3 separate regions of the Homo sapiens genome follow, and all the other regions are linked to region 3. The links come from fine-mapping of genetic effects on gene expression. A gene starts in region 3. Each other region holds a variant in brackets. All regions are shown on one strand. Distances are from middle to middle.

Region 1 (10,535 bases), 240 kb before region 3:
AGATTACCTCAGAGTCAGCTGAGGTGAAGTATTGTATTGCACTTTCTGAATCTACTTTGCTGCTGAATCCTACATTTTGTAGGGGCTGCTTGAGTAGTAAGTGGTTCACCGTGTAAATTAATCAGTGTTTGCCAAACCCAGCTGATATTGGAACCACCCCCAAAGCTTTTTCAAAGGATTGATTCCAAGTCTGGTCCTTAGAGATTCTCGTTTAGTAAGAATTCAGTGAAACTGGAAAGCTAATTTTTAGTCTCGTCTCTCCCTCTGACCTCAATCATCAACTAATAAAGGGTTAAGTTTGGAAAGTCCTAGCGTAACCTAGGGAAAAATACACAGGCAGCCAGATTCATGTTCTCATAAATATTTATTGTATGCCTACCCTGTGCCAGGACCTGCTCTAAGGCAGTGGAAAGACAGTGGGAAAGGATCATTGGGTCCTTGCCCTGAATAAACTTACACACTAGTCAGAGGAGACAGACAAACAATGAATATATAATATAATACCAAGTGGTGATGTGAACAATGAGGGAAGTGGCTAGTGTGATATGATCCAGGGTAACTGAGTGGGCTCAGAAACACTTCAGAGAAAGCAGTCAGGAAAGGCGACATTTTTCCTGCAATTTGAAGGATGTAAAAAAAAAAAGCCTATCACACAGAGGACATTCCAGGCAGAAGGGACAGCAAGTACAAAGGCTTGGGGCAGAAAAGAACTGGTCGCATTTGAGGAACAGAAAGGGCACAGATGTGGCCAGGCAATGATAAGCTTGTGGAGTGGGGTGTGGTATGAGGCAGAGAAGACCATGTAAGGAGCACTTGGAAGGTCAAGGTCATGGATGAAGCTATTATTCTAAGTGGAATGGAAACCAACCAAAGAGCTTAAGCACTGAAATGTCACTATTTCATTACCTTTTAAAAAGATTGCACTGGCCATAGGGACAGCCAACCACTCACTGAGATGGGAAAGTCTGAGAATGAAACAGGTGACAGGGAAGTGAGGAATCAAGAACCCAATGAAGACTTTGTATGACTGGACAATAATTTCACAACCAAGTTGAGAGTCATGTGTGTGTGGTCCAGGGTTATCACAATGTGGGAACAGGAAAAGTAAATAATAAAAGTTCATCACCAGAAAGGACTAGGCAAAGGGTGGTAATTGTTTTCAAATGATTGGCAGAGATGTCTGCTATGCAACATCCAACAGGAATCTGATTTTTTATCAATTAGTAGTGGTACTTAATGAGTGGTTTGAAGGAGGGGAGATGTAGCTTCCTAAGATGATGGGGCTTCCACACCAAAGAGGCCTCATCCAGGAAAATTTCTGCATGCAGCAGAAAAGTAAGCATGCCAGGTTGGGGGTGGGAGTAGAAAAGGTATCTACAATTAGTAGAGGTGTCAATTAAGAGGATTCAATAATCTCTCACATATTTGTAAGTTGAAAAAATTTTGCTTTTATGAGGAGACAAATGACAACCAGAGTAATATAAAAATGGTTTTATAAAAGTAAGTTCTGGGCCATGCCACAGGTCAGTATAAGTTCTGCTGAGTTTCCTAAGATGTCTACACTGTTAGCACCGATGGATGATAACTGATTCATATCAGCATAGGCCTGCAACGGCGCCCAGTTCTGGGCATCTTCAGAATTACCAGAGAGTATCCTGTATTCAATACCACTCAATTATTAAGCAAACTTAATGACTTCAAAGTCTTTGAAAATTGAATGTTCATAGAGAACAAACGTGGAAACTTTCATAGTTTCCATTCTATGTGAAAACAGGTTCTCTGTCAGGGTAAGCAGCTTGGCACTTCTGGTGAGTTCCTTAGGAAGGGGTTAACTGGAGCAAGGGCAGAGTCAGCATCTGATTACAAGGCTGTGGTCAAAAGCACAGATGGTGCAGTGACCACACCAAACAGGAAGTGACATCAGCAGCAGAGGAGCTCAGACTAGACCAGTACAAGGAAGGAGAATGAGCAGCTTAGGACCTCAAAAACTAGGTCTCAACTACTAGATTCATGAAGTCATTCAACACATTTCTACTGAGCACCTACTGTGCTTCCAGCACTCTGCTAGGTGTCCAGGTGACAGCAGGGACAAGACACACATAGTACTACTCCCAGCAAGTTTTCAACCTGCCAGCGAGAGAGAAATGAATGATGTCAGTCCAGGGATTCCTGATGGTGACTGTATAATGGACACTGATTTGCTTTTCTCTGCCCCACTTGAGGGTAAAGACAGGTTGGGGCACCAGGAGAGAAGAGCTTGAGCCTCCTAAGGTCCCCAGTAAGTCACAAGGCCAAGCTTTTAATCCAGATTTTTTTTAGTGTCTTTCAGAAAGACATAAAGATATTGCATTGAACTTAATGGATACTTAAATTTTTAGTTTTTGTCTACACTAGTCAAATTTAAAAGCTATTTGGCCATGCAATTTGACAATACAGATAGTCACATTAAGTCACTGAAGGTCCAACATTTGGTTGTTGGTTTATTACTGTGGCAAAGTGGATCGCAGAGGGATGATTAGGTTCGACTATCCTCATTGTCTAAATGACTCAGAAGAGCACTGCAGGATCAGGGCACCTGGATAAAGCTCTCAGTTCTGTCAGCAGCGACACATGTGCTGCCTTGAATTCTACTGTTCTGAGCTTAGATTTCTTCAATCAGGAAACAGAAAACCTGCATAAGGCAGCAATTGGATTTCAGACTGAAATTGACCTAGACTGTGTTCAAATATTTTGCAATCTGTATAAGACAGTAACAAGGAGGGAAATATCATTATGACTATTTGCTTATTATATAAACTTCAAGAGCTTCTCTAGAAATGCTGCCAGAAAATCATTGATTCATTCATGTCATCCTCATCCTTCATACTCTATCACCTCTTTATCCCATCCAAACTAAGTCTGACAGGTTCTATGTTCTAAGCATCTCTCCAATATGCCAACTGCTCTCAACCTCCTACCCAGCTGCCACCCTAGCATCAGTCATCTTCTCGAATCTCTCCCAGGCCCAAATACCAGGATGCACTCTAGCTCCTCCTCATCCTCACTCCATACTGGGATCATTTCAAAATGTAAATCTGATTCAGTCACCAAAAGGCATCAAGGACAACACCCAGCTGGAAGGACGGAGTCACCATAATCTGAACGTGGGAAAACTGTAGGAGGAAATTTTTTGAGGAGAACATTAGCTGCTAACACACATTATTTTCTGTGTGTGATGATAAAGCAAGAAGACAGTTGTATTATACTTTGAAAATGTCTGTTTATGTAAATGGAGGATGTTCTTGTCTAGTTAATTGCATTTTGCTCTCTGTGACCATTATGACCATTTAAAAAGATGAGTGAGATGTCCATAGCAACTCCTAACATTTTCACTATCTAACTGTCTCTTTGGAAAATTGACCAAATACCTGGAACACAACAGGCATTCAACAAATGTTTATTGAATGAATCAAATGTGAGCCACTGACCTCTTATATGCAGTCTCACCTTGGACAAACGAAAAAGCACTGAAGGAAGAGCATTACATACTTATCCCCGAATTATATTTCAGAGGAGGCAGGAGGTATTAAGGACACATGGAGGGTCATTCATGTCAAGGAAGACAGACCCAAAAAAAACCCAAGATCACAGGAAAATGCACAGTGGGACAAAACCCTGTTGAGCAAAGTAAGTGGAATATTTGTGCTAAACGGCAAAACAAGCTCTGGAATTATCAAAACCCAAATGAGGGAAGTAAACAAAAGTGCAGCGTTAGAATAGATATTATACCACCAAGGGTTATACTAATATGAAAAACAATGGGTCGCACTTAATAAAGAACATTCTCTGGACACGTGACTGATTCAGAGCTGCTGCTTTCTCATCCTAAAGTATGCATAGGAAACTTCAGAGAGCCCGGGTGACTTATTCCAACCTGGAATCCCAACAAATTCCCTCTGGAATCTTCCTTTTTATAGTCTTAAACCAGAATATACATACATGATAATCTGTACTAGAATAAAGGGCTATTTCATCAGCAGTCTTCAGAGCCCCAAGAGGGGACATTAGCATCGGCTTGACTCTTCAGTTTATGATTTTAGAAGAATCAGACAGCCTAATTAAATGACAATTTTAAAATATTTTTGTAATATATTTACATAATTGAGGCAATAACCATTCATTGAATGAATAGATTTTTTTAAAATTAAGGAGCCCGTTCTCACCTTTCCTCCCCCACCCGCACTCTTGCAAATGGCAAAGACCTCAGATCATGAATCAAAGGGTACCAGCACACAGTTCAAAAAGGTGGTGGGGTGGAGATGTTGAATGGGCACAATGAGCACAGACTCTACTTCCTTCAGTGTAAAGCAACCTCTGTTGAAAAGTGGTTACCCTTTAAACTACTTTAAAAGGCAAATCACTGAGCCACCGGTGTCTCCAAGACAGATGAACGAGCATTAGTAACTTACAAGTATCTCATTTGGTGTTTCAAGACAAGTAACTATAGAAAAACCAGAGAAAGAGCTGTTACAGGTTCCTGGAACGTTTGCCTGGGAAGGTATCTTAACAATTTCCTAATTCAGGTCTTCATTTTTCCAGTGGAGGAAAGCGAAGTGTACGAGGTGTGCAATTTGCCCAATGGCCCTGCAATTAATCCAGGAGCCCCGAGGTGACACCAGGAACCAACTGGAGCAGCTCCGGGATGCCTGAGTCCACCACCCCTGTCCACCTCTACTCCTTTCTTCAAAAAAACAATTTTTTTTTTTTTTATGTTGGGGACTGGATTTTGGAAGACACGAATTCCAGACAGTTAACTGTCTTTGCCTGATTATAAATATTAATGATTCTTGTCAACTCTCTGCCTGCTTCTCTCCAATTTTTAAAGTTGGCAGTCAGAACGTCCAGTCTCAACAGTGCAAATCAATTCAAGGAAAACTCAGTAAATTAGCAGATGACAGAACAACTGCAGTGTCTCATCTCAAAACGACACATCTCACACGTGGAAAATCAATGTCTGAAGACTGGAATAAGGTAAACCTTCTCCCTGCCCCCTTCCTGGAGGGGGCATTTGAAATCTTCAGAAGTAGTAGTCATTCCTCAGAAACAACTTTCCTTTTTTCCTTCTTTCCTTTCTTTTCTCTCTCTCAAAGAATATACTCATCTAGTATCTGGATTTGGTCGGTCGTTAACCTTAAAATCTTGACTCCTTCTTCAAAGAAGGCAAATCCCATGAGCTTTCTCTCTGTTGTGTTTCCTGCAGTACCTGCAGCACCTAGCGCAGTCCCTGGCACACAGTAGGTCCCCAGTAAATCTTTGTATCAACAGGGAGAACAGAAGCCACCATAAGGGAGGGGGAAGGTACGACAGAAGAGCCCCTGGTATTCTCTTGTATTAGCGTGCAACATTAATGATAATGTGCAACATTCTGTCCCGCCACAAAGTAGGAGGGAAATGCACTCCCTTTCTAAGGAGTGAAACGGCTGCACCCCAACGCTCCC[G/A]GCAGCATTTCTTCAGCAAATCCACTCGCCGCACACTGAGATCATGAAGCGGCCCTGCCTCCTGTCCAGTCTTATTCTCGTCCTTTCAACATATCTGACTGAAGGCTGAATGAGCGACCTAGGCCTAACCCCAGGAACCCCATTTGTCAGCCTTTGTCAGCGAGGTGGTGGCGGAGTCCAGCCCCGTCCCAGATGCAGTGACCACAGCGTTGGGGCAAAGAAACACTGAATTCAGGGTTGGGGCTCCCCTGTACCTTCTAAAAGATTTCGGGAAGCGCCACTGAGTTAGTGAGCAGGTGGCACTTCGGGGTGACGTACCCGGCCACCCGCCACCCCCTCAGCCGTGGACCTGTGGGGAGCCCCGACTACCATCGCCCCTCGCAGTCCCCACCCGGAGCGGCCCAGTGGCGCCCCCTGTGTCCTCTGCACGCGTCAGGACACTCACCGCGTAGTGCAGCTGGGGCTTCTCGCCGCGGTACACCGGGTGCCCCATGTCGCCTCCGGGAGGAGTGGCGCGCCTTGGGCTCAGCCTGGGGTCACGGTGTCTCTCTGAGTTCCCCGCACTTCACTGCCATCCTGGGGCAGCCCCTGGGCGCGAGCCCTGCTCCGTGCGTGCCGAGTGCTGTGCAAAGCGCCCCTGGCACAGCGTCCCGCTGCCGCTGCGGAGCCGGTGGGGACCTGGAGAAGGCAGCGGCGCGAAGGGGGAGGGGGAAGAGGAGGAGGAGGAGGAGGAGGAGGAGGAGGAGGAGGAGGAGGAGGAGGGAGCGGCCGAGTCTGATGCGATGGGCGGGCGTTTAATTCCTTCCGCTCCTGGCGGGTCCCTCCGGCGGCCGCCGCCGCTGACAGCTGTTGGGGGCTGCGGAGGCCGAACGCGCCCACGACAGGTGTCAGGCTGGCCGGCACGCCTGCCTCCTGCCACCCCACCCTCCCCGGACCCGTGGGACCCCGGCTGCTGAGGCGGGGACTGCCAAAGCCTTTAATGCCAGCGAGAAGGCGAACTTGGGTTTCCAAGAAAGAGAGACTTTCACTAACTTTGAAGGAGGTGTGGGCCTGACAGTGGAAGGAGATTCAGAGCCTTCTCCTGGGAGGGCAGAGTTTCCCTTTCTAGAAAGCCTTCTTCTGTGAGAGTCTCAAATTGTGGGGACCCTTGGGGAGGGCAGGACTGAGAGGAACCAAGTCATGCTACCCAGGAGAACTGCTGCGGGGACAAGGCTGCCCAGGATGCTGGTCACTTAGGGTGACCCGAGTTCCAGGGGGGCTTGCAGGGCACATTCTGTAGGTTCACAATAACCCTTAAAACTGGCCTCTGCTCTGAAATCCCCTCATGGAAACCTGCACTTTAAAACACCTTGGAGAAGATCAGCGAGTTCCCTCCACAGCCTTGTCCTTCTGTAATTTACGTCCAGCCTCCCACAAGTTGAGCCCAGAGGAAGGCCAGGCCTGGGGCCAGAGTAGAGACTCCAGACTCATGAATCAATCAATGCAAGCCCCAGAGGGGTGGCTACAAAGTGGAAGATGTGCTTGGGGGTAGCTTGTGCCAGTTTGTCAGGGTCCCACTGTACTGAACCGGCTGAATGACTCTCCACTTGCTCTGTGTAAGAGGAGAGGGGAGGAGAGGGGAGGAAAGTTGGATGTGGCCCCGGAATTTCAGCCCTTACAATTTAGTTGAATGAACCATCCACTGGCATGTAATATTTTAAAACAATCACAGCATAATTATAATTAGCAGTGGGAATGTGAAGCCAGGGGTGCAAGTGGCCTGAGGAATCTACCATTAGATAGTCCCATGACAGTTTATCCACCTGGAAAACTGGATGGTTATATCTGCTAAAGTCAATCATAGGCCTACCTTCCAATCCAGCAAATTCCACCCCTAGATATACAGAGTACAATAATCTCATCATATACCAGAATGCTCATACTGTGTTGAGGCATAATTGCCCCAAATAAAAGCGATCCAAATGTACACCAACTGATGCATGACAAACCAACTGTAGTCTGTGCACATGATGGAATACTATTCAGCAATAAAAAGGAAAATGCTACTGATGCACAGAACAAATGGATTAATCTCACAAACATTATGTTGGGAGAAAGAAATCAGACACAAGTGTACATACTGTAAGATTTCACTTATTTATTCTGCAACTGAAATTCAAATGTTTAAGTGCAATAGGCAAATGGAATCCATGGTAATAGGTGTCATAACAGTGGTTACCAAAGTGGGAAGGTGGTATTGACTAGGAAGGTGGTACAAGGGAACCTTCTAGGGTGCTGGAAATGATCTATATCTTGATCTGTATGGCAGCTACTAGAGTACACCCATATGTAAACATTCACTGTGCAGTACAGTTCAGACTAGTGTAATTTACACCCTTCACTACATGTATTTTATACTGCAAAAATAAAAAATAAAAATAAAAATAAATTTAAAATCAATCCCTTGCCAAACCCAGGAACTTCCAAACAGTGTTGCCTGTCTTATGAGAAAGTCAATTGAACTATTTGCCCAAGTCTTTCATTCTCCCACAGCCTGATCTACCCAAGTCTCCTTTCTTCTGCTTTGTAGGAGAAATGAGCATGCCCATTGACCTTGGAGGCCTTCCTTGCTCTGTGACATGTCCAGGCAGAGCTCGAAAAATGACACACTAAAGTTCCCTCTTTACTCTCACTCTGTTCTGCTGCTAAAAGCAACCTTTAGAGCAAAGTCATCAAAGATCCTCAGAATAAGACAGAGAACCAGCTTGAGCTTCACCATCTGGCATCTTTCAGAGAATTGCAGCCAGGGCAGCCTGATGGGGGCACGTGTGTACAGATGTAATTCAATGGCCTAGACAAGCCCCAGTTTAGGGACTTTCACTTCACTGTGGTCTATTCATAAAGGTGAACACTCCAGCCTTAGGACTTTTTCTTCCATCACGCTTGCCTTTAAGCCCCTGAAGCTAAAAATCCCTTTCCCTACAAATACTATTTAATTATGAATATATTTAAACAACACAAGGTGGATCCCTGGGTCTTAAAACCTTAACCATAGCCTTTTGATCATTACCCCTGAGTAAGTCACCTCTTAAAACTGGGTCATCCTGGATTTGGTTTGTATTCTTTCTTTCAAAAATGTAGTAAGTCACTAAATGACATTCTTGTAAGCCAAAAATACTCCATCAGCCCCACACTGTGTACTTACATTTTAGGAATGACTTCTGCCTTCTAGCATTATTTATTGCTAAAGTGTCATAGCTAAGTTGGAGTAAAATGTTCAAGTGCAATAGGATTGTTTTTTCTCTGTGTTTGAAGAGTTTGTGAGATTGGGCAAAGCACCTAAAGAAATGATCAGTTCATGCTGCAAGACTCTTAAATCACCTTGGAATGAATCATCCACCTCCTTCAATTCTTAGTCCAATTGTGTAAGGCTCAAAGCTCCAGAAAGGATCTAGAAGATCATGCAGAACTCTAAGAAGTCTGTTCAATCTTAAACAATTTGAATTTCACACATTATTCATTATTTCATTTAAATATATTTCAGGGTATATTTAAAACACCACTCTAATCAAAATTTCTTATTTGCATATCTCTACTTCCAAGTATCCTTCCCATGTTATTTGTTCACTTGGTCATTATTCAACAAATATTATTTTAAATTTTAAATTTTAATTTGTATAAATGTATGGGGTAACAGTGTAATTTCATTACATGGATAGATTGTGTGGTGATGAAGTCAGGGCTTTTAGGGTATCCATCACCAGAAGAATGTACATTGTGCCCATTAAGTAATTCACCATCATCCACCCCACTGCCCTTCTGAGTGTCCATTGTCTATCATTCCACACTTTATAAATATTTTTAAGTGCATACTATGCACAGGTATTGTTCTAGGTCAACTAAACTGTATATTGACATGGCATGTGGTTTTAAAATGCACATTTGATCCTTTGGGGTAATGGAGAGAGATAAAAAGGCAGCAAGAAGCACATAAAACCTCACTTCAGAGGAGGCTGAAGTTCATCCAATTTGTTGGTTAAGAGCCTGCTAGGCTAATGTTCTTTTTTGTTTGTTTTTCTTTTTTAAAAAATAATAAATTTATCTGATGTTTATCATTCACCCCAGAGAGGACTTAAAAATAATCTGTATGAGTTACTCTACTAGCATCACCTTTAAGAGAAAACGTGCCCTGCTAACTGTGGAATTTCCATGTCTTCCTGTCCCTAAACATTACAGCATTTCCAGAACTGAATGCTGCCCTTTCTGCCAGAGCATTTAAATTAAAATACTTGTTTGCATTTATTCTGCCTGCCTATAGGCTGAGTTAAAATTTTCCACAGTTAATGCCAATGCAAGGGTGATTACTTTTTTCAGAAAAACTTTACCCAAATCTGTGGAAGCAAATTCAACTTCAGAGTGTAGGAAGAGCTGAGGGCCCATCTGAGTACTAAAAATCACTTCAGATGGCAGGACAGGCCCTTCTTGAAGGCCCAGCCCCACCATTGTTAACAGAGTTACTATGAGACCCTCTAAGATGGGGAATCCCCTCCCCCAAACCCAGTGCCCACACTATGCCATCCTATTGTCCTGTTAATCTAGCCCCTGGAGTATTTTTAACATTTTGAAATGGAAAAATCAATAGCATATAATGTGCAGCTTAATGAATTGTTACAAAACATTCACCTGTCTAACCTTCACTGAGGTCAAAAATTAAAATATTGCTAGTACCCTAGACCCCCATGTCCCTTGGCTGTATTTCCCTCCTCCATCCCAGTGGTAGACACTGTCATGACTTCACTTCTTCACTTCCCTTTTACAGCAGGGTTTCTCAACCCCAGCACTCTTGACATTTGGGAACCAATCATTCTTTATGGTAGAGGCTGGACATTGCAGAATGTTTTGCATCATCCCCAGCCTCTACCCACTACATGCCAGTATTATTCCCCCTACGCCAATTGTGGCAACCAAAGATGACTCTAGATATTGCAGATGTCCCCCAGGGAGTGGGGAAAGGCATAATCACCCCTGGTTGAAATCCACTGCCTTTTAGGAAGTCAGGCATCCATAAATATTAGAGCT
Region 2 (10,535 bases), 250 kb before region 3:
CTAATACATGCTGCAACATGGGTGAACCTCGACAACACACTCAGTGAAAGGAGACAGTCACAAAGGACCACGTATTGTATGATTCCATTTATGGAAAATCTCAAGAACAGGCAAATCTAGAGACAAAAAGCAAATTAATGGTTGTCAGGGGCTCAGAGTAGCATTGGTGGAGGAGATAAAAAGAGAGTGACTGCCAGTGGCATGGAGTTTCTTTTGGGGAAACAAAAATATTCTAAAATTAGCTAGTGGTGATGGTTGTACAACTCCGTGAATGTACTAAAACCCACTGAACTGTACACTTTAAATGGGTGAATTGTATCACATGTGAATTACATCTCAATAGAGAGGGTTTAAACAAATGATGCTATACCTTGAGTTTACAGAGCAAAATGTCCCTACATAACTTTGTGTTTCCATGTTTGACCACTTAGCAGGAAGGCCTCTCAAGTTAATGAACACATTTCCGGCTCTCGCAAGACAGTCTTACTGATTGCTATGAGACTAAAATTCCACATGAACAGAACCATAGTGTCTGGATGACCTTGATGAGCAAGAGAATTATAAATACAAGTTAGAAAATTTTCAAAAAAGAAGGAAGGAAAAGAAGTTAAAGTGGGAATAGGGTGTTACCACTGTGCTAGAAAAAATAAAAAGAGAGAAACAAACAAACAAAAAAATGGGTGAAAAGTTGTTTTTAGTAGAACCTCTTTAAACAAGGGGAATGCTTTCAACAGTCCCAAGCAAATTTCAGTGTCACATGGTTAAGGCCAAAATATCCCAAAATAAGATGAATAAGATAAGATTATGGCCCTGTTGCTATGACTTCATTATGTGGAATATAGATATTGGGCCTGTGTCACTGGCAGACATTATTTATATATATATATATATATATATATATATATATATATATAAAATATACAAATATATATGAAATATATAAACATTTATTTATATGTTTACGTTAGATTTATATATGCATATATAATAAACATAAATATATAAACAAATGAACATATATTTATAGGAAGATAACTTTATTTTGGTATAATTGATACAGCATAAAATTTATGCATTTTATGTGTACAATTCAATGATATTTTAGTAAATGTACCAAATTGTGTAACCATAACTATTAATTCAGTTTTGCAACATTTTTATCAAATTATATAGACAGTCCTGGTGGCTGCTCAGATATGTTTTTGCTTTTGATTTTAGAAAGTCGAGTTTCTTAGAAGTCTGGTGTCTAGTTCAGTGGGATGTTTATGTCTTAACTACAAATGGGTGCTTGGTCAGATCACTGAATCCTGAACAACTAGCAAAAAATAAAAAGGTGTTTCCCCTCATTTATTAGATTTTGAACTTTCTAAGAGGTGGCCTAGAAAGGAAAAAATATATATATACCATTACTAACGTATTTCAAGTTTGATTGTATAATATTGATTTTAATCCTTCATTTGTAAATAAGTACTTTTTGATTCTCTTATTAACTCATACTCTAAAACAACTTCATTGAGATGTAATTTACATTCTATAAACTTCACCTGTAAACTTACTGCGTTGGATAACCATCACCACAATCCAATTTGAGAACATTTTTGTCACTTCAATAACATCCCTGGGGCTCACTGACAGTCACTCTCCTTTCCCAACCACAGCCCCAGGAAACCACTAATCTATTTTCTGTTCCTATGGATTTCTGGAAGGCATTACACTTTCACACACAGATAGAAAAAGATATATCAAAAATATATCTCTCCTTTAAGAAAATCCTATCTCTACCCCAGAATTTCAGTGTTTGTGATGTTTAAAATTTTTAAGTAATAAATAAAAGTTGCCACAAATGCTATGAAAAACAGTCCCCCAAATGAGAAGTTTCTCCACCATAATATACATTTTAAAGTTTATAATAACCAATTAATAGACAGCACTTTAACACCATGTGATATTTTCCTGATTAAAGCCAAAAGCTACTAATTCTACCCTGCTCCATGACTAACCAGCCTCCCACCAAAAACAAAAATCCAAAACACTTTAGAACACATATTGTTCATTTTATTTGCAGACAAAACTCCTGGACTACTGGTCTCCTTCAAATTTGGATCATAAGCTGAATTAAGCAAGGGAAACTTCCCAAAATGACATCCTATTCTGCAGCTTTTTAGAGCTACAGAAACTTTTCTAGACATTAAATTCTCTTTAAAGATAATCCGGAATTATGTTAGACTAGTTTAAAAACCATCACTTTTCATAGCAACATGATTATATTGTGGGCATTTCCAAGTTAATTATAGATCTGTCATTTTAAGGAATAATCATTAATTGAGATCTTTTCATTGAATTAATGAAGGGATATTGTACAGCTGCAACAAAATAACCCTTTTCCCCTTAACCATCAATGGAGAGAATTCGTACCATGGTAATTTGGAAGCTACCACCATCATGTATGCATATATCATAGTTCTCAAGAAAATATTGTTCCCGAATTGTCTTTTCCTACTAAAGAAATAACCCTTGGTCAATGTGACAAATATATGACATTGAGTCATTTCCACATAACTCTCCAGCAGACCACATCTGTGAAGCTAGATAAATCCTGTTTCAATTTGGATTGCCATAAAACACAACACTCTTTTCAGGCCAGTCCATGGACTTCTGATAGCAGCCTTCACAGGCCACAGGTTGCCACTTTCCAAGTCTAGGATGCTGTGGCTCTCACAAGGGTGCTGACCCGGTTTCTATTTTCAACTGGAATTTCCTCCTCTGGGGTCATTTGATTTCCACCCTCAGAGACATTTTCCTGGTTCTCTGTTCTGTGCCCCGACCTACTCGTTGCTTCAAAACCAAAAAGAATTCCAGGTTCATCCTCCTGCACAGTCCAGTGAGACAAAGACTCGTGGACATTATGCTTTCAATCTGGTGGAAGCCATGGTTTTTTGAACCTCAGTGAGACCCTCTTAGAAGACACCAAGGTGACATTTACTCAGGAAGCTGCTGAGCTCTAAGACAAGACCTGCAGGAAATGATAGCGGGAGGCCATGGTGTAGAGCTAAAGCTGTTAAGACGTCTTCATTCAAAGGGTCACAAGAATGTGGAAGAGTCAGCCAAAAGAAACATCACAAAGTGTAAGACAGGGCTACTTCCTTTGGCACAACACTGGCTGCATTGGCAGGACCCAGAGATGGCTCACCCCCAGCTCTTGTGGCTGAGCGCTCAGCAAGCCACACGGAGTTTAAAGAACAGGAGACTGGTGTTTTTAGAGTCAGCTCCTGGAGGCCCTTTATGTTCTTGCCTCTGAGGGAGTTCTGGATACAGTAACATAAAAATCTCAGATACATCCACAAGAAGAACTAGCATTTTAAACCCATGAGTAAATGACACTTTTCTGAGTTTAAGTCTCCCTTTCGCACTGGTAAGAATGGCAATGTTTATGAAAATTATTCTGCCTAGAATAATTGCAAAATAAACCATGAAACATATACTATTTTTAACTTAAAATTTTTAAAGCATTTTCCAGTGATGTAGAGATTGGACAAGGCAAATAGTTTTCAGACACTATACTTGCAGATGCATCTTCTTATTCAAGAGGAAGCCTTAGAGTAAAAATTGGAGACTAACCTTTTAAAAAAATGTTTCCCTTAGCGCTATACACATACCCAGTTCTGCACATATACTGGTGAATCAATGAATGTTCACTGACATTTTGCCCTTATCTGAAATATACCCACCACTCCCCTCCATACCAACAATATGTGTCCCTTTCTTTTGCCTTCATACTGATGTAACGTAGACCTATCTACAGTGTCTGTGGTAATTTGAGACATAGCATTAGACTAGAGATAGGCAAACTTTTTCTGTAAATGGCCAAAGAGTAAACATTTTAGGCTTTGCAAGCCATGCAGTTCATTGCAACCAACCACTGAACTCTGCTATCATAGTGTGAAAGCAGCCAAAGACAATATGTCAATAAATGCACATGGCTGTGTTCTAATAAAACTTTATTTATGAACACTAAAATCTGTATTTCATAAAATGTTCACATGGCATAAGATATTCTTCTTTTGGTATTTTTTTCAACCATCTAAAAATGTAAAACTGATTCTTAGCTCATAGGAGACACAAAAGCAGGCAGTTGTCTGGATTTGGCCTGTGGGTCATAGTTTGTTGACCCCTGATTTAAGAACTGAGCTACCGTAATATGGCAGACAGTCTACTAGATATGATCACGTACAGAGCAAACTGGAAAAAAAAACAGGCCTTGGCAACTGTTCAATCAAGTTGATATAATAGAGGAAGATATGGTGAAGGTGTTCAAACTTCAATGAGACAAGATTCTGTGTGTGTACTTTAAGTGCATTGCTTTTAATGTAGCTTATCCATTTACATGTCAAAATTGATCAAATTAATAATTTAATTGCCAAACGTTGCCTCTGGTGTGTTTGGCCTAAAGGATTAATATATTTTTCTTTCATTCATAAATCACCTCATCCTTAATTTCTTCTAGGTTTTGAAACAGTAGCTAAATTCAGAAATCTTTTAAAAGTGATACTAGTAAAAAGAAGCAGATAAAAAATCTCCAGGGAGATGTTGGTCAAGGATACAAAATTTTAGTTAGGCAGGAGGAGTAAGTTCATATTCCTTGTTCAACATGGTGACTATAGTTAATAACAATGTATTATATACTTCAAAACTGCTAAGACAATAGATTTTAAGTGTTCTCACCACAAAAAATAAGTATGTGAAGTAATGCATATGTTGATTATCTCAATTTAGCCATTCCACAATGCATACATATTTCAAAACATATTGTACATCATAAATATATTTAATTTTTAATTGTCAATTAAAAATAAATTTTAAAAAGTATCCAGGGAGGTGATTCTGAATGGTTTCTTTTTGATAGTTTGAGGAACCAGAGCTGCTACACACAAGGAAACAGGGACGAGTGTCGCAATTCTGTTTAAATGTTAATATCATTCAGTCTATTTCTATATTCCCTTAATGTCTACTCAGTCTTTCTCCAATCACTGTGGATTTATGGGAACTGATATCAGTGAGAGAACCTCAAAACCCTGCTTTTGTCATTTAATTGGGTCATGATGACATAGATATTGACATCCATGACAGAAAGAACTCACTGACGAAACAGAAAAAGAAAATCAGGATAGATTTGTACCTTCTTAAAAGTATTGGCATTCTCAGGATAAACTGATTAAACACTGAGGTAAAGTGAATCAATTCCCCCATCTCTTCATCCCTCGTTGCTTCACATCCTTACCACAGCCCCATCATGGAAGGAGTGCATTTCCCCACACACTGAAGTTAGGCTTTTACATGTGACTTGCTGTGGCCAGTAGCAGGTGGGTGGAGACAATAGT[G/A]TGTCAAATTCCTGCCTACGTCTCAAGAGTCTTCAGTTGATCCCACTTGCCATCTTGTGCCTTTGTCATTGCTGAACTTCTTTGGGTAGATGCTGCCAGCCTGGGCCCCAGGATAGATACACATGGGACAGAATTGACAGAAGAGCCTTGACACTTTGGCCTCTGGTCAAACAGCTGAGCTCTGTCTAGCTAAGCCAACCCTAACCGACCCACAGATCCACTAGGATCCGTGATGGTTTTTTTATGCCACTGAATGTCAGAGTAGCTTGTCACACAGCATTAGTGTGGTGATAGCTAACTGATACAAACACACTTCTACATTTTAGACAACACAGCTATAAGGTAAAGTACGATTTTGTGTGTCTATGTGCATATATGTATGCATGCTAGGAGTTCTATATTTCATTCCTTTCTAATGACGCCTTAAATAAAAATGTGCCCTCCCCCACCTGCGGCAGCACAGAAATATCATGGAAGGCCTCATTCTCAAACCAAGTTTCCTCTTAGACTCACTACATGAGCCTTTGATCCTTTACAGATGTTTGCAATGGGTGATACAAAGTATCTGCGTGGTAATGGTGACATTACCTGTCTAATTTTAATGCAATTAAATTGCATTAAAAGCAAGAGTTGGGCTCAGTATGACTACATTTAAAAAATGTTCTTCCTTTCTAATAAATATCAAGTCATAATCATATGGTAAAACTGAAATATGTGAAGTATCTAGTAAGTTTGCCTATGTTTGCAGAATCAGACAGCATCAGCAGTTTGGACACCTTTTTTAAAATAGTGAGCACCAAATAAATGCAGGAAGTCTTTCTAACTGTGTCCCGATGATAAGGTTTCACTCTTCAGCAATCCTGAATAAAAACAGCTATTAAGGATTTTTTGAACCAGTTCATCATGATAAGGTTCAAACCTTTCCCCAAGAGAGGTCTACGAACGGCCACTCCCTTTGAAATGGATGAATAAAAATGCATGTGTGCCATGAATGCCAAGGTTTACGTAACTGTTGTGCTGCCCAGAGCCCAGCTCGGTCATGGCTACCTCAAATCCATGCAGGACTCGTGTTTATCCTTGTTCGTAAATACTTTTGGAAAACCCTGACAAGGGCAGAGTGCCAGCTCTCATGTACCTTTTCCAGGCTGCTGCAAGTTCAGTCACGCGGTTGTCGGTCCAGAAATGGATGTGCCGTTAGAACAGCCATGCAAAGAGGGAGTGTGCCGCATTTACGCAGGAGATAAACTCTGCCGTGTTTCAATCAAAAGCAGTTTGCTAGTGAAAACACAGGTGTTGGAATTATAAAATTACCACAACCCTCAAACCCTCAACTAAAAATAACAAACAGGATGTTCTTTATATGGGTGTGTACATATATATATATATATATATATATATATATATATATATATATATATACACATACATATATATGCATTGCTGACAACAAGGACACACCAAAATCCTCTCTGATCTCCCTATCAATTCACCATACTTTCTTCTGTTATGTTTATGGATGCTTTGGGTGTAAATAATCAATGGAGACAGGAATGTTTCCACCGTGCAGCAAGAACAGGAGGAAGAATTTAAAATGTGTCATCTTATGGAGACAGTTCAGTGGTAGCCCAGATTCAGGATGAGGGCAGGAGTAGGGTGGATGTGAATACAAAGGGGTAGCATGGGGGGAGTGCTTTTGCGGTGATGGACCAGCTGTGTATTTTGAATGCGGTAGTGGATATGCCAGTCTGTACAGGTAATAAAATTGCACAGAACTGCACGCATATATACATACATAAAAGAATGCATGTAAAAACCTGGTAAAATGAGAATCTGTAGTCTAGTTAATAGGATTGTCCCAATGTCAGCTTCATGGTTTTGATATTGTGTAAATAAGATGCTACCATTGAGAGAAGCTAGATAAGGGGTACATGGGACCTCTCAGTACTATTTTTGCAAGTTCTTATAAGTCTTCAATTATTACAAAATGAAAGGCTTTAAAAAGTATTACCTCAAAGGTATCACCTTAAGCCAATGGCATGTCAACAATCACCCACTGCACAGTGATTCAAGCATGCAGACTTGGCAATCAAATTAAGAGACAAGGATTTGAGTCCCAGCCCCACTACGTACTAGCTGTGTGGCCCTGAAACAGACATAAGGTCAGAGCTTTGGTTTCCTCATCTTTTAAATGAGGATAATAGGACCTATCTCACAGGGTTATTTTAAGGATTAAGTGAGATAATATATGTAGAATAAGCAGGACTCATAGAGAGCATTCAATAAATATTGGCTATTATTATTACTCTAAGTCAGACTAAATATTTCTGAGAGCTTTAAATCACTGATTAATTTCATTGACACTCAAGTACATACTAAGCATCAGGCACATGCTATAAATGGCCAAGCATTGAGTCACACACAATATAGTCCCTGGTTCTGGTCTGCGTCCTTTTGGATTTTCTGGTTCTGTTGTGAATATGGTCTCCAAAGAAGCAGGATGAATATTTATGAAAGTGGGTGCACAGAAGACTCAAGGAGGAACTAACTTAAGAATAAGAGGTACTTTCTGCAGTCCAGGTTGAAATGAGAGTTTTCTCTCTGCTAAAATTTACTGGGGTACAGGGCGGTTTAACTGCAATACTTAGCTGCAACCATTCCTTGACCAGCAGAGATAAATGAAAATTGCCTTTCAGTCAAGCACAGGTTAGACCATTTGTGTTGATGTGCAATTTTAAGAGTTAAAACCCTTTACCCATCAACCAGAAAAAAAGCCAAACCAAATCTTCCTTTTTCTTTGTTTGGCAAGGAAATTACATTAGACTATCCTAATGGGCTTAGAGGGAAAAAAAATCTAATTGTAGTCTATATTAATACATTTACATATTTTGAATTATATTAATAAATACTAATAAATTTAGACCAGGGCACTTTAAAGTAATGAACTTTCCAATATTAGATTAATGACAAAATATACGTAGAATATATCACTCTCTACTAAATGCTTTAATAGGTTTGTGATATAAAAATCCTTAAAAGCAAGCACACCACGTATGGATGGAGCTGGCATAGCACCTGAGTACTTTAAATGTGGTAGTCAAAATAATCTACAGTGTGGAAGAAAGAGACATTTGAAGCAATTTGGGAGACTTCTATATACTTAGGAATTTAAGGTCTTTCATAAATGTAAGCAAACCCCAAACAAGACTGAAAATGCTTGTAATGATATTTTATGTTTGTCAACACCGACCCCCCCTCCCGCCAGCCCTCAACAAAAATAGGAAATAAAATGTTCTGCCCTTCTCTGTGCTGGTCTCACTGGATTGGCTGGGCTTGGGCCCAGAAGGAGATGGAGAACAGGGAGACCAAGAAGTCAGAGTATTTACTGTTCCAGTCTATCCCTGCTTCTCTGTATTTTGCCCTTGCTGGAGTCTTCTCTGGACACATTGCCAGGGTCCCTTCCAGCCAAGGCTGCAAGTCAGTGGGCTCTGGTAACGCTGGTCCCTCCCTGGTAACAGCTTCTCAGTGTTGCTAATTGCTGGGTGCTTCACCACTCACCGTTGGTTCCTTTAAACCTGTCAACACATTGGCGTAGTTCATTCCTCAAATTAAGCCTTTTGAGTGATTTATCTGTTTCCTGTTTGGATCCTGATCGACACAAAGCCCTTGACTGTGAATCAGTAGCTAATGTGGGAGGATGCCTTAACTTTTGAGATAAAAGTTAAGACCGTGTTTTGCATTTTGCTCAGACCATCGAAATGGCATCTTAACATGAATGGAACTGTTGAAAGTCATGTGCATAGATACCCACAGAAATAATACTATGTGTTATGTTACCATTTTCAAATCATTCTAGCAAACTCAATGTTCCATACCCTTGCTAATCTATTATTCATCTGTGGGTCTAATTAACATGGCATCACCAAGCTAGGAACCTAGAGCAATGTCCAGGGATTTGTGCCCATGTGGAGAGGCACCCACCTGGCACAGAGATGCTTGGCAAATATGGAGCCCACGTGCTCCACAAAGTGCTGAGATGCTTTTAGCCTCTGTATTGCACTTGGACTGGCTTATACATTTCTTTACCAGATATTTCAGTCAACTGCAGAAAGGGGTCATTCAAAAATATGTTAAAAGTTTATTCATCTAAACTACTTCTGTTGCTGTTGCCATGGCAACTTTTCTCTAAAGCCACAACTCCAAATTCTTCTAAAATTGTTATTTCAGAAATCTAATTTAGCTGACATCCCAAACACTCAAATTTTACTATAAGATTTTTTTTTATGTTAGAAAAGTTCTAAGAAAATGACAAGTATCCGAAGAGAAGAGGAGAACAAGCCTGACAGGTTTTCATTTGAAAGAGTCATGGCATCTTTCAAGGAAATTGGAAGTGGAAGAGTCTTCAGTAACAGTAACTGTATTTGAATGAAAAAATTTGGCTTATATTTTGTATATGTTTCTTGTATTGAAAAGTATCCCATATTCACATCCAAGTAGTCACCACAAAGATAGTGAAAGCAGTACCACATAATGACTGGTGGGAGTCCTTGTTGCATCACTGGATCTACCTTTACGTTTTTAAGTATTCAGGGTATATTTAAGAATAAAATAAATCAGAAAAATTGGTCTTTTGAAAATAAGGTTAGAATGAGAAAACCTGAGAACAGAAAGTACATTAAAAGATATTAAATTAATTAATTGTGTTTGTAAACAGTGGTCTCAGTCCAAAATGTGGCAAGCACCCAAGACCGTTAAATCTATCCCCACCCTCCCCATCATCTCGTAACTCACAATCTAAAACAGACCATGCTAATGGACATGCAGTGACATGGCCAGGAGTTAAGAACGGGCTCTGCAATTCAATGGGAGAACAGGTAGGCCACAAACCCGCCTGCCACCCTGGGCTGCTCAGGAGATTTTGAACCCTGATGTGATTGAGAGAGAAACGCTGGGAGCCACTGTTTCCCTCCCTCTTTCCTTTGGCTTTTCTTTCAGCAACTCTTCCCTTTTCCCCAGAGCAGGCCGGTCTGTGTCATTATCCTCAAGGAGTAGGGACAGAAGCAGGCACTCTAGTTTCTCACTTTCATACAGATGCAGATCCCACATCCACACACCAAGGCTGCTGAGCACTCCACACATCCTCATTTGGAGATTATAACT
Region 3 (10,535 bases):
AGGTTAGCTATGGACATAATCCCAGCTCTGATCCACAAGAATTAGGAGAAGCTCAGGATTGAAATGAGACTTTATTCCTTTGCCTGTGATCAGAGTCAGGGGCAGAGCTTGGCTGCTAAGAACACAAGTTGAGAAACACGTTCCAACTGTGTTACCACGTACCATTTACCCTTTGTCTCCTCCATGTTTCTACTCAATAGATGATCTACCCAGCATGTCCAGGAATCAGATTTTGTTAAAGCAATCCTGAAACACGTAGTGAGGAAATGCTAACAAGATCGTAGCTGACTTTGCCTAACACTTCCCAGGTTTAGGCCATAAAATGGTCATTTGTAAGCTTTGAACGAGCACAAGTAACAAAGCTGCAGGCATTTGTGAGAGTCTTGGGAGCAGGGGCTGTTGTATGGACAATTTACGTTAAAAGCAGACAAGATTCTGAAAGAACAAAGTGGGAAATGGATGAGATCCATCAATGGCTAAACCTGAAGGTGAATTCTTAGGATTTCATATGGATTCAATGGAAGAGAAATAGAAAATTTGAACAGACTGTAAGGGGTACATGACTCCAGAGGGATCCTCGTGGTTTTGGAATCAAACGAAGGCGCCAACAAAGTTTAGGCCAGCTGTAAACACTTCTGTGGGCACTCTCTTGATGGCCAGCATGGGGTACTATGGGCAACCTCACTAACGCAGCAGTTCTCAGTTAGGGCGATTTTGATCCCCAGAGGATATTCAGCAGTGTCTAGAGACATTGTTTGTTGTCACACTGGTCTGGAGGAGTGCTACTCGCATCTAGTGGGAAGAGGCCAGGGGTGCTGCTAAATACCCCGCAATACCCAGGACAGCTCTGTAGCAAAGAATCATTCAGCTTCAAATGTCAATAGTGCCAAGGCTGAGAAACCCTGAGCCAGAGCAACCAGAAAAGTTCAAGAACCAAATCTATATGAACCAGATATTCCCTCCAGGGCCTCTAAGCAGCCTTGCAAGATGCTCATTGGCTGACATTTTGATGTCATTAGTAAAGACTCTCCTTTAAGGACCAAAGACTCAGCTTGCCTGCAAGTGAAAAGGACAGGCAGTGCCCAATAGGATACATTTTCTTGGTTTTTCAGAGGGTTCCAGGGCGTTAAACCTTTGAAAGGTAATCCAGGCCATTAAATTAGAGATCCAAGGGTTATGTTAGGATATCTTGGCCTTTATTAAACAAAACCAGGGTTGGAGCTACATGCTAGAGTTCTATCCAATCACTCCATGCCTGCCTCAAGCATAAAGGAATTTCCAACACACACACACACACATACACACATATTCTATGAGAAAATTCTGGCTTTTTGCTAGATGGCTACATCCTTAGTTTTAACCACCATGAAAAGGTAAAAATCATGGTAGATGAGTTTTGTGCAGACTGCCCACTGTATGGAATAGAAGCCACCCAGTATCACTGCAGTTCAGATCCTTGTCCATTAATTATGAGATGCTAATGGATAAGAAGATAATTTGCAACAAGTGAAATCATCTACAGCCACATGCCTTTTGGTCATAACAGTAATGAGCAGCATCTGTATACTATATTCCAAGTATGTATATGGTTGCTAAGAAAAGCAGAAATGTTCTTAATGATGCAATTAGTTTTAAGCACGAATGTTAGCTAGCTAATCCAAAATGCTGGCTTGCTTTTGTATTTCTCTTTCTCTCAACTTGTACAGATTAATCTGATAATGTGTGCTTCTGAAATACAATGAGAATCCAGCCCCTCCTAAAGACCAAGAGAAATTCAACATTTCAATTTTTGATGCTCTTTCTAATCTTGAGTTCCCTGGTTTGGAGGTAACATCTTGCCCTCTGCCTCGACTTTCCTTTCTACTGCCTATCTTTCTCAAGAAAATGGGCAAAAGACCTAGCAAAATTTGTTAGTTTTTTGTAATCTGCACCCCCAACACCTAACAGCCTCAGTTACTTTGACACAGTAACTAACATTAATAATATGTGATGCTAATAATTCTGATAAATGATGCTTATTTTTCTAAGGCGGTTTACTAAAGCCAAAGTCTAACAGTTATCTCACATTAACACAGCTGAGTATGATCTCAGATGCTATTTTCAAACGGTTTTCCTTGGTTGTGTATTTAGCCTAAATCTCCAGCAATTACATGGTATTTCATTTCATTTCTGTAATGCTAACTGTACTTTAAAATATTAAATTACAACTGATGGAATCTCCCTTCCCTTATGGAAACAGATCCAAGGCAAACCTATAGAGTTTGTGGACCGAAGGGGATAGGGGCTGTTCATTTTTAAAACAATTACTATTCTCTGAAAGTGTGTTATTTTCAAAGCGCCCATCAGTGACAGTTTCCCAATAGGTCAATTCACTATTTTTCTTAACTGGACAGCAAATATTTTAAGGGTATCTGATAGCTCCCTCTGAGTCCCCTATGTATTGTTGATTCTTCACTAAACTACTAATTGTTCTAAATGGAATTTAGGCATCAGCATATTTCCATGATCTTTCACACCCCTACACAGAGATTTTCTTCTTCTCCTAGGTTAAACTAATACTCAGTACCATAGATTTCTGAAATTGCCCCTTCAGGGAAAGAAAAGGTGAAAACTAGAGAATTCTTGTCCCCCCTGCCACCCAAACACACACACACACTCACTCATACAGTCAATGACACCCTCCAAAATAATGTTTCTGAATTCTCTACAGAACAAGATGGCAGACATATTTCAAAATATATTTCATCCAATCGTTACAAACAGCTTAGCAATAGATATTTGAGTTGGAAAAAATATCAACATTGGGTGAAGGGATAAGGTGACCCTTTGAAATTGCCTGCAGCACTAACAGAAAACCAGAACACCATCTCTTTCTCCAGCTCCCACGACTGCTCCAAAGTAGAGCCAACAAGTCCTACAAGACGCACAAGCGGGTGGCCACTAGGGACATCCCATTTCCAGGCACCATTTAGCAAGTAGAAGAGGAAAACCCACACCACGGAAACCCCTTAGTGGGTGCCTTGCTCTGTAAATGTAATGGAATTAAAGGCGGTCTCCTGAAACTGCCTGGGGGCCTCCTCCTTGGGCCGTGGGACGCGCAGCGCTGGTCCCTACCTCGGATTTCCACACGACGTAGGGGTGCCCGCGACTGTCGGGTGGGGACTGGAACTTCCTCTGCTGGAGCCACCTCCTAGGAGAAGCGAAGATGCCATTGGGGCCTCCCCCGGATGAACAGAGGATGCTGGAAGCGCTTCGGCTACTGGCTGGCCCGGCCAGGACAGAAGGCAGGTCCCAGGCCATGCTCTTCTTGAGGCCGCCGCGACCCAGGGGAACCTCATAGTCAAAGTGAAAGCTGCCGGATGGTGACTTCTCCTGCGGGGTGCTGGGTGTGGAGAAGGACGAGCAAAGAGGTCCAGGAGGCGGTAGCCTGGTGGCCCTGGGGGGCGGACCCCGGGAAGAGGACGCCAAGCGAGGGCCGAGACTCTCGGCTGGGAGTGATGGGGAGTAGAGGCGGCCCGCCGTGGCTCCCCGCGCACTGCCCTCCGCGCCCGCCTCGTCGCTCCCGCAGCCGCCGATCAGGGCCGGGTCCAGGCTGCGGGTCTGGCGCAGCTTCCTCTTGGAGAAGCCCTTGGCCGAGGCCGCGCTACTTGAAGCGGGCGAGGAACAGGAGAAGACGCTGTGGAGCAGGCTCTGCGCGGACATCTCGGCGGGGCTGCACCTGAGGACCACCTCCTCCTCCCTCCCTGGACGCTGGTGGCTTTGGGTCGGGAACCGAAAGGGACTCAGGCAAAGGTGCCAGGCGGGGCTGGCCCGGGGTTTGCCCAGGGCAGTGGAGAGCAAAGCCCAGCTCACGCGCCGCCGGTGCGCTCCAAGTGCCCCGGCGGCGGCAGGAGCAGCAGATCCATCACCAGCCTTCTAGGAAAATGGGTCTGGGGACCTCCTGCAGCCGCTAGAACCTTCCTCCGGAGCCCAAGACGCGAAGAGGGTCAGGAAGAGGAGGAGGAAGGTCAGGCGCTCGCTGGGTTCCCAGCTCCAGCCTGCCAGCGCCACTCCCCCTTCCTAGCTGAGGCGGGAGACGCAGCGCTCCTGCTCGCTGGCTCTGGATGGCCTCTAAGACTCCAGCAAGCTCCTCCTTGCGGCCCGAGGACAGTCCCGAGGGCCAGGGAGAAGGCTGCCTGGGCGTGCGCCCAGGGCGCGTCCACCGCGCTCCCGGCGCCGCGAGAACTTCCTCCCGCTCCTGAGCCGGGCGCCTGAGCTGCGCCTCCCTGCACTCTCTCCTTGCCCCGGCGCCCGAGGTTGCGCGCCTGGCCTCCGCTGGGCTGCTGCGCCCACTCTTCCGACTGCAGAGGCTCAAGGGTTGTTCCAAGCTCAAGGTTCCCGCGGGGTCTCTGTCTTGCTGCAGTGTGGGGACACCGAGCGTGCTGCGCCCGGGACCTCCAAAGACTGCGTGCCCACGGTGGGATGGAATTCCCGGCGGCGCTCAGCGCTCTCCGTGGAGGAGGGAGCTCAGGAGACAGCCCCAAGGCCGGGTGTGTGTGTTCCGCCGGAGAGGAACACGCTATTCGCAGCCCAGCCTTGGGCCCAGGGCAGACGCGGAGATGACCCCGTACGCTCGCTCTAGAGGCAGCGGGAAGGGGGCGGCCAGGACGTGTAGAGCTGGAGGAATGCCGGGGCTGGAGCTGGGGCGGAGCCAGGAGCAGGAGAAAGCAGAACGTGAAGAGTTTTCCAGGCGCCAAACCTGCAAGCGGCGAGGAGAGAAGGCAGCTCGCCACTGATACCGGGTCTCCTGGGGAGAAAGTCGTGAGGACGGAAGTGCGGACCTTCTCCCCCGTCTCCCCACCCCCAGATCAAGGGTCGCGCCAGCTCCACTCACGTTTCTGGAAAGGAAGGGAAGTGTCAGATTGCACCCCACCCACTGGTGTCAGATGGGCAGCCGGGGACGATTGCTCTGAAGTTGGAGTTAAATCTCCTGCCTTTTCTCCCCGCGCCCCCCCACCCCGCCCTGTCCCGGCTGTTTTTGTTTTTAAAAAGGAAGGATAGATAGGAAACTGTCTAAAAGCAGTGGCTGCCGATGAATGAGCTGGAGATGGAGACCTACTAAGAAAGTGGAGGGGGAGGAGCCTTTGCCGTGGAAGGGGTCCTGAGCACGTGCGGAAACGTGCTCTAGGAGGAGGGGTGAGTGAGGCCGGGTAGGGGGCAGGCGCCGGGCGCAGCTTCAGCCCAGAGGCTGCAGAGATTGGCGCTCACAAAGCGATCTGTCTCCGCGTCCCGCTCTGGGACGCCTCGGGTCTCAGCGCGGTGGCCACAGTCCTGGGAAGCTGGAGAACGCTGGGGAAATCAATCTTCCCGGCAAGGAGATGAGTCTGAAAGCAGCTTCTCCCGCTGTCGGACCCCTGGAATCTATAAAGCGCAAAGCCTCGCCCTCTTGGAGGGCTTTTTGATGTAACAGTTAAGCTTTGCAATGCAACTTACAACCATCTCAGCAGGGAGCAGACAGAATGTTGGAAATGTCTACTTTGTGTTTGTGTCCTCTTTTATCACTTAGGGATGAAGATAATTTTATATAAATGTAAAGGTGACTCTACCATTTCTTTTATTTTGGAGAAAAAATACAATGAAATTATAAATACAGATGTTGGACACGAACATTCCTCTTGCATATCTACCAGAATTGTCCAAGTTTGATTCTGGAAGACTTCCTTTATTCCCTATGACATATTCAGGGGAAAAGTTAATTTACTTAGACTCTTTGAAAAGCGTGTTTGGTGTTCCTAGGTGTTCAGCTATTTTGGAGGAGGTACGTCATGAAATCTAATTAGGAGAATTCGTTGTCTCCACAAAGGGCGTCGGGCTCCCAGGTCTTGGCTGTACTCGTTTTTTGTAAACGCAGCCGAACAGACTGCACCCTTAGAGATTTTTTTTCCGGTAGCTTTAATGAGCTATCTGCTGTCTGAAGACAGAGTTCGATTCTAGTTTCCCATCCCCCATCGCTGTCCATCTCTTCTCACCCTGAGCTTCTTAAGTATTTTCAGCGGCTGTCAATCAGGTGTGCTGCTGACAGGCACAGTGTTTAAAAAGAGCTCTTGCTCCCCTGCCTAACTACACCCAGGCCAAGTTACATTTGGGGGCTTGTTGGCATTGGCTTTCTTCCCTCCTCATACAAGTCACATTAGAAGTAAAAGTGTGTGGGTCTTGTCTGCCCTTTCTTTAGTAACAAAACTGTAATTTATCACTGGTAATGGAAACACTTAATGTCTCTACCACTGGGATACGAATGCATGGTTATGCCTCATTGCATGGTTATGCCTCAGTGGAGTTTGGCATTCGGGGTAGATGGTTAACAGAGTCACTTCACAGAATCACTTATAACTCAAGGGGGGTGAGCAACTTGATGATTGTATTTGATGATTTATATATTTCTCTAACCCCATATGATAACCATGGGGTAGCAAATGAACCCCTGCCATGACTGTATAGGCTAGTATGAATGCCCCCAGGCACAAGGGCATACATTCTTGCTCATGGGTGTTGGAGAGCCAACCAGCAGAGGGATTCTTCTATTAGCACTCCTAGGGCTTGGAACACACACATGCCAGTTAATTCATCATCTAGTTTCCAAGTGTTCCTGACCCTCCAGGAAACTGGAAACTTGTGTCATTGTTGGGAACAGTGAATAAATTGTTTTAAATATTAATCAAATTAGACTGGGGCTCCTTTTAAAAACTCAGTGTAAGTATGTGTGCTTTTAATACCTGGGGCAGGGGATGTTGATGTTCTTCTAGAAAGACTTTGTAAGAATTTTTTTGGATTTTTTTAAAACTATTTTGATTTTCAACCTGACTGCTATTAGGTTTACCTTGCAGTCATAGTGGCTTATGGTGGATTCATTCATTCCTATTTAAGGCATTCTATTTAACTCTTGTTTGTTATATATTCTCTTTGTTTATATAGACTCAACTCACATTGGCCTTTCTGATCAACTGTCAGGTTATGCCAAATTCAGTTAAGGAAGATCTATGGGTTTTGGTTACCAATTTCAAAAAATGGCTGGTTTTGTTACATTGCTTCCCAGAATCCTTCTTACAATTCATCAGCTAGCTTCAGAAGCATTATAATTGGTAGTCAAGAAATAAATAGTTTTAATGTATATGCTTTCAAAAGCAGGTTTCTAAGACTTTGCTTTGCTTCTCTATTAGGGCATTTGATATTGAAAATAGTGCCTATATTTGTTAATTTTTTCCTCAGAGACAAAGTTAATCAAAGACTTGGGATACCTTTCATTAAAGAGCAGAACATTCTGTTCACTATTCATTCCCAATGATAATTATTGTAGACATCTAGGATTTAAAAAACATCTTATGCTATCTATTCCATCTGGTCATGGCACAAGAATATTCCAATGGAAGTTCTAGAATCCTTGGACTGACATCAAGCTATCCTCTTATCAGAGATCCTAGAAAACTCATCAGTATTCTTTCTATTCCCTTGAGAGACTGTTCTACAAACACACACATCTTACTATCAAAGGATATATTCTGATGCTTAACCTAAATTTCCTTTTCCTTAACTTTATCCCTTGAAGCTTTTCATATCTCCAGCCAAAATTCCTCTTTATCCTTGGTGTTTAGACCCCAAAGCTATTTGTAGATTTTTATCATGCCCTTTGGGTCTGACTCTGTGGTTTGGCTACACTATAAAGTTCATATTTTGCTTTAAAACCATCACTGTAGATGATCTTTTCTGGACTCCCTCCAGTTGCTTTTGTTTTTCAGTCCTGAGGTCCAATATTCCAGGTTAGGGCATCCTATTTTGCTCTTGTTTGTTATATAATCCCATTGCTTAAACAGTCTCAAATCACACTGAACTTTCTGATTGAGTGTCATATAATATTTCAGACTTCTATCTGATTGGCTCCCAACTTTTAGCATTGTTGATTTTCATTTCATCCTGCCCATGTCTCTCAAACTGATCATGATCCCCCGATATCATTTCTATGTTCTTAGTGGGTAAACAGTTCACAGCATCTCACTTGCCCATAAAAGTCCGGGTTCTGTCTCCAAGCTCCTGAAACATGAAAAAGAAGCATCATTTAAATCTGTGTGACATGCATGGAATACATGAGAGATATGTGGAGAAATTTTACAAGGCTTAAGAATGCAAATTGCATTAAATAGCCCAACTTCCCCATGCCTGAACTAAAAATGTTTCTTTAGATTCCTATGCCAGCTGCCAAAGCACTTAAATTACAATCGACAAACGTCAGTGGAGGTAAACCTAGAGTCTTTGAGTACAGGAAATTTTTGTCTTCTATTACATTTATATACCAACAGGCAAGGTTTTTGGCTCAATATTTTGGATCAATTTCACATAGCCCAGAATTGGAACCATGAACCCTCCAGGTACACACTTGAGGTTTTAATATTCCTCTAGTTGATATCCAGACCTGTGAAATTTTTTTTTCTGACGTTATATTCGGAAACCCAAATGACTATTCTTATTCATCTTTCCCAGTTTTTCCCCACTCTGTGTGCCTAATTTTGCCATTTCTCACCAATTGTGACCTTAAAAAATTAAATTCAGTAAAAGAAAACGACTGTATCTGTGTCAGCATCTGCATTGAACACACGAACATCCACTTGCAACATTGTCCATTTTCTCATTTTCTGTGCAAATATTAGCAACATGTTCTATGTTTTCTAGTGTTTAATATTTATCTTCTAGACTTAAAAAAGCAGGAGTTTGGCATAGGCACATTTTCTGCCTTTTCGCTTACATGTTTATTTCTTGAGCAGGTATGAGTACACTATTTTTTTCTTCTTTTTTTTTTTTTTTTAAATACAGTTTCACTCTGTGGCCCAGGCTGGAGGGCAGTGGCGCCATCTTGGCTCACTGCAATCTCCACCTCCCGGGTTCAAGCGATTCTCCTTCCTCAGCCTCCTCAGTAGCTGGGATCACAGGCACCTGCCACCATGCCCGGCTAATTTTTGTATTTTTAGTAGAGATGGGTTTTCACCATGTTGGCCAGCCTGGTCTCAAAGTCCTGGCCTCAAGTGATCCTCCTGCCTCGGCCTCCCAAAGTGCTGGGATTACAGGCATGAGCCACCACGCCTGGTCGGGGTACACTATTTCTAAATGTTAACCATCCTATTTTCACTTGCCCAAGTTAGCAGGGCAAGTGAAAAACAAGGCTGTATAAGAATCTTAAACCAAGTTGCAGTGTAGATGTGCTCAGCAGGATCACAGGGGCAACTCCTGAACCAAACAGTGGTTACTCTACCTGTGGCATGTGAACGAATCTTCCAATATCAAATCCTAAATGTATGACCATCATCCCTTTTGCTTTAGGCTTTGAATCTTGATCTCAGGAGACTTTTAGAAATATAAATTGGCTGAAAGCCAAATTCAGTTTTGGTTGATAAACATTTTTGAACACACACTGTGTGCTAGTGGCATTCTTTGTTCTATCTTTGTGGTGAAAGTGTACTTAGAATCTCAAAATAAGTTAAATTTATCTGAACCTGGTATATAATTCAGCTGTACTAGCTACTTAAACTAATTTTTAAAATCTTCTGTAGCATATGTCTCAGAACTACTTTTGAGGATGAAGAATTCTGTAATAATGTAAACAATTTTAATAGATACTTTATTAATTACCCTAAATTGTTCATAATCTAAGCATTCATCAATATTTCCCAATTTAAAAAGCAACCAAATAACATGAGGTTTCATTGCCTATGAAATGTTAATTTTTCCCCCGAATCTTCACTTTTCTATATTGAATGGAAACAGGAGGACCTATTTTGCCTAACATGTTTCTCTGGTGACAAGGTAGGATGGGGTATGGAAGGGAAAGAAGAAAATAAAACAACTGGTACTATGCCTAGGGTACATACAGACACATACATATATATTAACATCAACTTTACTGAGAATCTACATACAATAAGCTATATAAATGAATTTTGGCAGTTGTGTATACCCATGAAACCACTACCACGATCAATATACAGAACATTCCTATCACCTCCAGTGTATGCTTTTATTAACGTTCAATGAACATTGACAATTTGAGTTTTGCTATGTTCATGGTTGAGTAGTGCCTTTGGCCAATATAAAAAGGGAAGGAGGGAAGAAGAGCATGAGGGAGGGAGGACAAAATAGAGAACAGAGCTTTTTCAGTTCTTGTAGTGGGTTGAAGTGTGTTCATCTAAAAGGCATATTCAAGTCCTAATCCCTGGTACATGTGAATGGGACCTTATTTGAAAACCGGGTTTTTGCACAAGTAATCAAATTAAGATTAAGTCAGACTGAATTAGATGGGTCCTAAATCCAATAACTAGTGTCTTTATGAGAGAAAGGAGAAGGCAAATGGAATACAGACACATGCGTGTGCACAGAAGAAGACCATGTGAAGACAGAAGCAGAAATTAGAGTGATACAGCTACAAGCCAAAAAACCGCCAAAGATTGCCAGTAACCACTAGAGGCTAGGAGAGAGGCGGAACAGATTTTTCCTTAGAGCCTCCAGAAGGAACC

Alleles and levels. Positions count from the first base shown, and alleles are read on the strand shown. Sizes are in standard deviations (SD) of each study's normalised expression. Not every link is listed here.
As copies of G replace A in region 2, the expression in skeletal muscle of the gene that starts at base 4,794 in region 3 goes up (moderate effect, 0.46 SD a copy in FUSION).

What was found. PIP is the estimated chance that this variant, and not a neighbour inherited with it, causes the effect. A credible set is the group of variants that fine-mapping cannot tell apart.
Region 1: its variant is the best candidate, but not a certain one, in a credible set for the expression of ARHGAP6 in whole blood (TOPMed, PIP 0.71).
Region 2: its variant is the best candidate, but not a certain one, in a credible set for the expression of ARHGAP6 in skeletal muscle (FUSION, PIP 0.53).

What each region holds. Positions count from the first base shown.
Region 1 is chrX:11,421,626-11,432,160 of GRCh38, forward strand. The region is part of intron 1 of ARHGAP6 (Rho GTPase activating protein 6); the gene reads right to left. It overlaps LOC124905246 (a long non-coding RNA gene), which reads left to right. Exons shown (of 2, transcript XR_007068392.1): 1 at 1-5,010. Among named protein-coding and RNA genes, the nearest start is that of MIR548AX, 110 kb to the left of the region's middle. The variant G/A (reference allele first, on the strand shown) is at 5,478.
Region 2 is chrX:11,410,310-11,420,844 of GRCh38, forward strand. The region is part of intron 1 of ARHGAP6 (Rho GTPase activating protein 6); the gene reads right to left. LOC124905246 (a long non-coding RNA gene) reads left to right here and starts at 6,906. Exons shown (of 2, transcript XR_007068392.1): 1 at 6,906-10,535. The variant G/A (reference allele first, on the strand shown) is at 5,379.
Region 3 is chrX:11,661,127-11,671,661 of GRCh38, forward strand. ARHGAP6 (Rho GTPase activating protein 6) reads right to left here and starts at 4,794. Exons shown (of 13, transcript NM_013427.3): 1 at 3,115-4,794. The coding sequence starts at 3,702.